Homo sapiens: one gene and its partner. The protein of the gene in region 2 purifies or fractionates together with the protein of the main gene of each other region. This does not show direct contact. Each region holds a gene or a part of one and is shown on either strand. Other genes may lie near its edges.

Evidence for each region.
Region 1: the proteins of CD300LB (region 2) and DDX19B purify together in Homo sapiens (affinity purification with mass spectrometry; one large-scale study listed by BioGRID and IntAct). This does not show direct contact.

The regions. Positions count from the first base shown.
Region 1 is NC_000016.10:70,301,999-70,305,814, forward strand, and holds part of DDX19B (ATP-dependent RNA helicase DDX19B), read left to right. Parts: intron 1-3,816. UniProt on the Homo sapiens protein: ATP-dependent RNA helicase involved in mRNA export from the nucleus.
Region 2 is NC_000017.11:74,521,281-74,525,096, forward strand, and holds part of CD300LB (CMRF35-like molecule 7 precursor), read right to left. Parts: intron 2,372-3,816; coding exon 2,299-2,371; intron 1,621-2,298; coding exon 1,458-1,620; 3' UTR 230-1,457; coding exon of another isoform or gene 154-229; 3' UTR 1-153. UniProt on the Homo sapiens protein: Acts as an activating immune receptor through its interaction with ITAM-bearing adapter TYROBP, and also independently by recruitment of GRB2.

The DNA of each region.
Region 1 (3,816 bases), on a different chromosome or scaffold from region 2:
CAACCTCTGCTTCTTGAGTTCAAGCGATTCTCCTGCCTCAGCCTCCCGAGTAGCTGGGATTACAGGCATGTGCCACCATGCCTGGCTACTTTTTGTATTTTTAGTAGAGGTGGGGTTTCACCATGTTGGCCAGGCTGGTCTTGAACTCCTGACCTCAAGTGATCCGCATGCCTCAGCCTCCCAAAGTCCTAGAATTACAGGCGTGAGCCACCACACCTGGCCAGCCCTTTAATTTTTTTAAAAGTCAGGTTTATGGAGGTATAATTTACACAGAGTAAAATTAAACTTTGTTAGTGTACAGTTCTATGAATTTTGACAAAAGCATACAGTTGTGTAACTACCACCACAGGCAACACATAAACCCTCTCTACAAAGAACTACAACTTCTTGTAGTTCACTCCCTCTCCTCACCCTTCTCTGGCAGCTGCTGATATGTTTTCTGTCATTATAGTTTTGCCTTTTCCAACATGTCATAAAATGGAATCATATATATAATATATAACCTTTTGAAAAGTCTGGCTTCTTCCACTTAGTATTATGCATTTAGAATTCAACCAAGTTGCATGTATCAGTAGTTCATTCCTTTTTATTGCTGAGTAGAATTCCACTGTGGATATATATACACAGTTTGCTTATTCTTCTATTGATGGACACTTGAGTAATTTTCAGTCTGAGACAATATGAAGAAAGCTACTCTATACATTAAGGTACAGATTTTTGTATGGACATATGTTTGCATTTCTCTTGGGTAAAGTCAATATCAAAGAGTAGGATTTACTGTGTTATGTCGTATGTGTTTAACTTTGTAAGTTATGTGCCAAACTATTTTCCAAAGTGTATCATTCTGCTTTTCCAACAGCAATGGATGAGAGCTTCAACTGCCCCACACCCTTCCCTGCACAGTATTGTCAGTTTCCTTCATTCTAATAGGTACATGCTGGTGTCTCATTGTGGTTTTAACTTATATATCTCCCTAATGACTAATGATGTTGACAATCTTTTCATGTGCTTATTTGCCATGTATGTAACTTCTTTGAAGTGGCTTTTCAAACCTTTTGCCCATTTTTAAAGTAGGATTGTTTTTGTTTTTAGTTGGGAAGTTTCTTTATATATTCTGGATAGAAGTTCTGTTTTTTGTTTTTGTTTTTGTTTTTTTTGAGACAGGGTCTCACTCTGTCACCCAGACTAGAGTCAGGCTAGAGTGCAGTGGCATGATCTTGGCTCACTGAAACCTCCACCTCCTGGGCTCAAGGGATTCTCCCACCCTGTCTCCAGAGTAGCTGGGACCACAGGCATGCGCCACCACATCTGGCTAATGTATGTATTTTTTGTAGAGACAGGGTTTTGCCATGTTGCCCAGGCTGGTCTTGGAACACCTGGGTTCAAGCAATCCGCCCACCTGGGCCTCCCAGAGTGCTGAGATGGATTACAGGCATGATAAGTCCTTTATCGGATATGTTTTGCATATATTCTCTCAAACTACAACTTGTCTTTTTTCAACAGTACTTTTCAAATAATAGACATTTTCAACTTTGATTAACCTAATTTATCAATTTTTGTTTGTTTGTTTGTTTTTGAGACGGAGGCTTGCTCTGTCGCCTGGGCTGGAGTGCAGTGGTGCCATCTCGGCTCACTGCAAGCTCCACCTCTCAGGCTCACGCCATTCTCCTGCCTCAGCCTCCCGAGTAGCTGGGACTACAGGCGCCCACCACCACGCCAGGCTAATTTTTTTTTGTATTTTTAGTAGAGATGGGGTTTCACCATGTTAGCCAGGATGGTCTCGACCTCCCGATCTTGGGATCCGCCCACCTCGGCCTCCCAAAGTGCTGGGATTACAGGCGTGAGCCACCGCGCCCGGCCTAATTTATCAATTTTTAGATGATTAGTTCTTTTTGTGTTCCAAGATATACACCTTATCCAAGGCCACAAAGATTTTCTCCTGTGTTCTCTAGAAGTCTTATAGTTTTAAATTTTACATTTATGTCTGTAATCCATTTTCCATTTTGAGTTAAATTTTTTCTAATAAGGGGTATGCATTGAGGTTCATCTTTTTTTTTTTGAGGCGGAGTCTGGCTCTGTCTCCCAGGCTGGAGTGCAGTGGCGCAATCTCAGCTCACTGCAACCCCTCGCCTCCGGGGTTCAAGCAATTCTCCTGCCTCAGCTTCCCTAGTAGCTGGGATTACAGGCACCCACCACTATGCCCAGCTAATTTTTGTATTTTTAGTAGAGACAGGGTTTCACCATATTGGCCAGGCTGGTCTCAAACTGCTGACCTCATGATCTGCCCGCCTCGGCCTCCCAAAGTGCTTGATTACAGGCGTGAGCCACCGTGCCTGGCCGAGGTTCATCTGTTCATCTTTTTCACAGAGATGTCTTTTTTTTTTTTTTTTTGAGACAAAGTCTTGCTCTTGTCCCCCAGGTTGGAGTGCAGTGGCGTGATCTCAGCTCACTGCAACCTCCACCTCCCAGGTTCAAGCGATTCTCCTGCCTTAGTCCCCCGAGTAGCTGGGATTACAGGCGCCTGCCACCAAGCCTGGCTACTTTTGGTATTTTTAGTAGAGACAGGGTTTCACCATGTTGGCCAGGCTGGTCTCAAACCCCTGACCTCAGGTGATCCATCCGCCTTGGCCTCCCAAAGTGCTGGGATTACAGGCGTGAACCACCACTCCTGGCCAGAGCTGTCTTAATTGTTCCAGCACCATTCGTTTAAAAGTCCTTTGGTTTTCTTTTTTCTTCTGTTTTTCATCTTTGTCTCTTTTTTTTTTCTTTCTTTCTTTCTATATTTCCTGGGAGATTTTCTCAAGTACTGTCTGGTATATTTCATTTTCACTTCTACTTTCTTATTTTTAATTTCAGGAACTTTTTTCTTCTTCCTTTACTGTTCCTTTTTTACAGACAATACCCTGTACGGCTTTCATGGTCATAATATCCTCATCATTTGGAGGATATTTTTCTTCTTCTCTCTGCTCAGTCTCTGTTTCATGTGAGGCGTGTTTTATCCATATATTTCAGTGTCTACTTTTTTGTGATGACTGTTTCTCAGATGTCTGTAATCCTTGCTTGGCCACTCATATTTAAGAGTGAGTGACTAAAAAGTTGAGTGGAAGCTGTAAACACATGAGTGGGGCTTGTCTATTCTGACCTTAACTATATATCTTTAGTGGTCTATGTCAGCATCCTGAGAACTTTCCTCCCGGTCTGGCCAGATTTTGCAGAGAGGGATCCTCTAAACTCCTGCCTAGATGGTGGAGGTCTGACTCAGTGTTCTGGAATCTAGGTGGAGGAAAGGGTGAGGGAGGTCTCAGGACCCAGAATACCTGCTTCCACTTAATGCTTCTGTTTTCATTATGGCATCCCCTCCCTTAACTGTGGTCCTTATCCATTTGAGCATTTCTCATGCCTAACCTGGCAGGCATTGTTAACTGAGTAAATGAACTGTGTAGTTTGTTATTTGTTGCAAAGAAACTTTTGATCATTCACTCTCAATATGTAAATATCTATTTAGAAATTGCATACTTTACTGTTTTATTAAATATATTATGTACATTGTAAAGCAAATAAAAAAGTAATAAAGGCTGAGATAAAAATGAAATAATGCTTTCCTGTGCTTGTGTGTGCTGGCTTCATATTTTTATTAGCCAATATCTCAAGGCACAATATACACTTAGAAAAAAAACACATCATTAGTCAACGTAGAGATAAATATGTGTTTCAAGTAGTTCTGAGAGGTTTTTTGTTTTTTTAATTATTATTTTTTAAATTTTTATGTATTTATTTTTTGAGACAGAGTCTCACTCTGTCGCCCAGGCTGGAGTG
Region 2 (3,816 bases):
GTGAAGCACCATGCTTTGGCTTTCCCTCCCGCGGAGCGGTGCCGTCCTCCCTGGGTCTGGTCGGATCTTCGGGAAGCTGGATCCAGGAAAGCATTCCAGGAGGTAGGGCCCTGGGGCTGGTGGACTGTGGGTCTTGGTCCCTCACAGAATGACTCAGGGGATCTTAGCCGGGCTCGAACTCTCCTCTCTGGCCATTATGGAATTTTCAGGCCCATCATTGGCCAGAGACCTAAATTCAGTTCAAAGTCAGAGAAAGTTTCTCTTTGGCTGAAGGACAAGAAGAGGGGAGGCTCTGGGTGCCATGCTAGGGACCAGAGGGTCCCCTCTCCTTTATCCACTGCTGACAGTCAGTACTCCCTATTAGAACCAAGAGCAGGTTGGAGGCGTCCTCATGGGTGTTCAAAGGGCAACATGCCGAACATGTGTGGTGTGTTTGCTTGTGGGCAGGTGGGGGCGGGAGCACATCTCACATGGGAAGGTCCCTTTGGTGTGAGGGTCCCTCAACCATACAGCACAAAGTGACCACATTCAAGGGCCTCATCGCCGTGGGTGAAGCCTGTGAGGAGACAGAACCACTTCCCTAGGACAGTTTTCATTAGTAACATGATTTCAACATCACCGAAAAGGGAGGGTGCCATTTCCTGCGATGGTTTTCGTTACTGCCCTCCCCACCTGGAGGTGGTTCTTGAGGCCTGACAGGCTCTTTTGGGGAGGAGACCCAAGCTGTCATGCTGAGGAGGCTCCCAAGCTGCAGCCCCTCGGAGGTGGGGGAATAGGCAGGGAGCTTGGGGAGCTAGGAGGAGGAAGAGGTGGGAGGGGGAGGACAAGCACCGGGCCGGGCCAGGGAGGTTCCCATTGCCTCCTCAGCCCTGTGGACTCAGAGCCATGTCCTCCCTGGGGACAGGGTCCATCCAGCCCCTCATGCCCTAGAACCAGGAACTCATCCCAGAATCACCCTCCTTGTGTGTGGGATCAGAGAGGTTTCCTATGAACATAAGTCATTAAAACCCAACTTTGCTAGAAAAAAAAAAATTTAAAAACACGGATATATCAGGTTCTCAGGCAAAGACGGTGTTGAGTTGGTCTCCGGAATGATGGAAGTCTAGGGCTGGGGGGGTCTCCCCCAACCTCTTTCTGTACTTTGGTCCCATGCTCTGTGCCCGAGTTATTCCAGCAGTGGGGACAGAGTCGTCCAGTGCTTGAGCTCCATCTCTACAGCTCCTGACCAAGAGAACAGGTGCTGGCACCCCAGGAGGTGATGGTGGCTCAGGAGAGGACCTGGCTAAGTCCCTGAGCTGTGCAGAACAGGGAGGTGCCCACCAGCTCCAAGGCCAGGGCGGAGGCCCAGGGCCCCTATCTCAGTCACTGCATCCCGAGGACTCGTAGATGTTCCTTCCACAGCCCGAGTCTCTTCTGGAAACGTGGCCAGGGCAGGAAGGCTCTGCAGATCCATCTCTCTAAGTGGCCATGTCTTTAGTCAGAGGTTCGGAGAAGTTCATGTAGATAGGCTGTTCCCCTGGCTCCTCAGGGACCCTCTGAGACCCCTTCAACCAGAGGATGGCAGTGACCAAGATGAGCAAGATGGGCACCTTCACAAATACCAGGAGCATGTAGTGGTTCCTGGGGAAGGGGATGCAGTGGTCAGAGCCCTGGGCATCCCCAGGCCATGTCACTCCCATCCCCTGACCCTGTGAGCCACCAGCCAAAGCCTGTGACCCTGGGCCGGGCAGCCCCACTCTGAAGATTCCTGTAAACCTCCTCCTTGGTTCAACCTCAAGGGGTCCTCCAACAGTCACCTTGGCTGGTTTTGCACGGGGCCCATCTTCCTTTCTAACATCACCTTCTGGGACCCTCTTTGCCCAAAGTACATCTCAGCTCAACAGAAGCGCCAGAGGTCACCAAATACAGGTTGTGTTTCCTGCCTCTGTTCCTGCTAATGCTAGCTCCAGGCTGGTAAATCACCCTTCCTGTTCTGTGTCCCTTGATGTCTTGCACCACAGAGGGTGGTATCTTATCTCCCCCTGGCACCCATTAGGCCACCAATGCAAGGTTGACTGATTGACTGGGAGAATGATGCTCACTGAGAAGAGTTCTGCAGAGCGGTTTTCTGGTGAGAGCTAGAGTGGGGAGATGGTGGATTGCAGTGATGGGGGCAGGAGAGAGATGGAGGGTGGGCTTGGGGCCTTGACTCTGGCTAGAACAGGTGCTGGCATTTGGTGACAGGCAGGAGTTCCCAGGCTTGGCTTCCCCTTAGGAGGGACCCCAGGTAGGGGCAGGAGAAAGAACCACATGACTCACCTCTTGTGGGAGCCGATGAACACTGCCATATTGCTGTTGGTAGGTGAGCTTGCTGTTGTGGAAGCCGCTCCCTCTAGACACAGGCAAAGTCAGCCATGGGTTATTAGCACAGTTGGGAGCTCATGCATGGGTCACAAAGCCACGCGACCCTGCCAGCCCTCACCAGAAGACCCTTTTCCCTGGAGTAGGAGGATTTTTCTCTCCTGCTACAGCCCCTCATGCTTCTACTGAGTCACTTCAATCTCAACACACAGACATTTTTCCTCATCATGTTCAGATGTGGCAAGAAAAATTAAAAATTAAACAGGAGTAAACACTGTAGTTTATTCTGGGAGAGAGAGGTTTTTTCATACTTTCTTTCCACCTATCCTGCAAGTGGGACTATTGGATGGGGAAATAAATTTCTGGTCTTTTCCACTGGAGTGGTGCCTGAGCAGGGCTTAAGGAGAGAAGATTCTGGAAATGGGCTGTCCAGAAATTGGGGTAGTCCAGAAAAAGGGAAAGGGGACTCCAGAAGGCTCATGAAGAAAAGGGCACACTCCAGTTAACTAGAGAACATCGACTATGAGAAACGGAACATTTTTAGGAGCAACCATATAGGCAATTTGTTGGGGGCAGTCTGGTCAGGGGGGCCCTGAGCCCAGCCCAGCACTGAGTATCCATGACCCAACAGTGATCTTTTATTTCAGTCCTCGGCCCCAGCAAATTTTTCTCAAAGGTCCCAGGCTGTCCAGGCACGGTGGTTCACGCCTGTAATCCCAGCACTTTGGAAGACCAAGGGAGGCAGATCGCTTGAGGCCAGGAGTTTGAAACCAGCCTGGGCAACATGGTGAAATCCCATCTCTACAAAAAATACAAAATGAACCAGGCGTGGTCATGTGCCCCTGTAGTCCCAGCTACTCAGGAAGCTGAAGTGGAAGGATTGATTGAGCCCAGGAGGTCGAGGCTGCAGTGAGTCAAGTTCACCCCACTGCACTCCAGCCTGGGCTACAGACTGAAACCCTGTCTCAAAAAACAAACAAAACAAAATAAAACAAAACAAAACAAAAAAGTCCCAGGCTTTGGCCACACTAGGTGGGCTCCTGTCTGAGCTGCAGGTAATTCCAATCACAACAGTTCCTATGGAGCCCCTGATCGTTTTACAGGCTGGTACCCCTGTAGATCCCCCACCCAAGACTCCGGAACATCTCTCTCCCTAAAGCTCCACACTGGCCACTGTTTTTTGTCTCTTTGTACCGCCTGCATGTCTTGCTCAATCCCCTCTCTGCCCCCATAGATATTCTGGGTTTCCCCTACTTGGCAGCCCTGGGGAAGTCTTGCTTGACCCTTTCTGGACTCCTCTTTACTCAGCTGCAGCCACTGTGTCCATGTGCCTCTTTGGTCCCAACCCCAACAGTACACAGGCTTGTTCTAAAGCCGGCATTGTCTATTTCCACATCACCACCAAATGGACCCGAGTGGACACTGAGCTGATGAAGTACTGAGTAGGGGTGTGCGGGTGGAAGTGGGGGTTGGGGG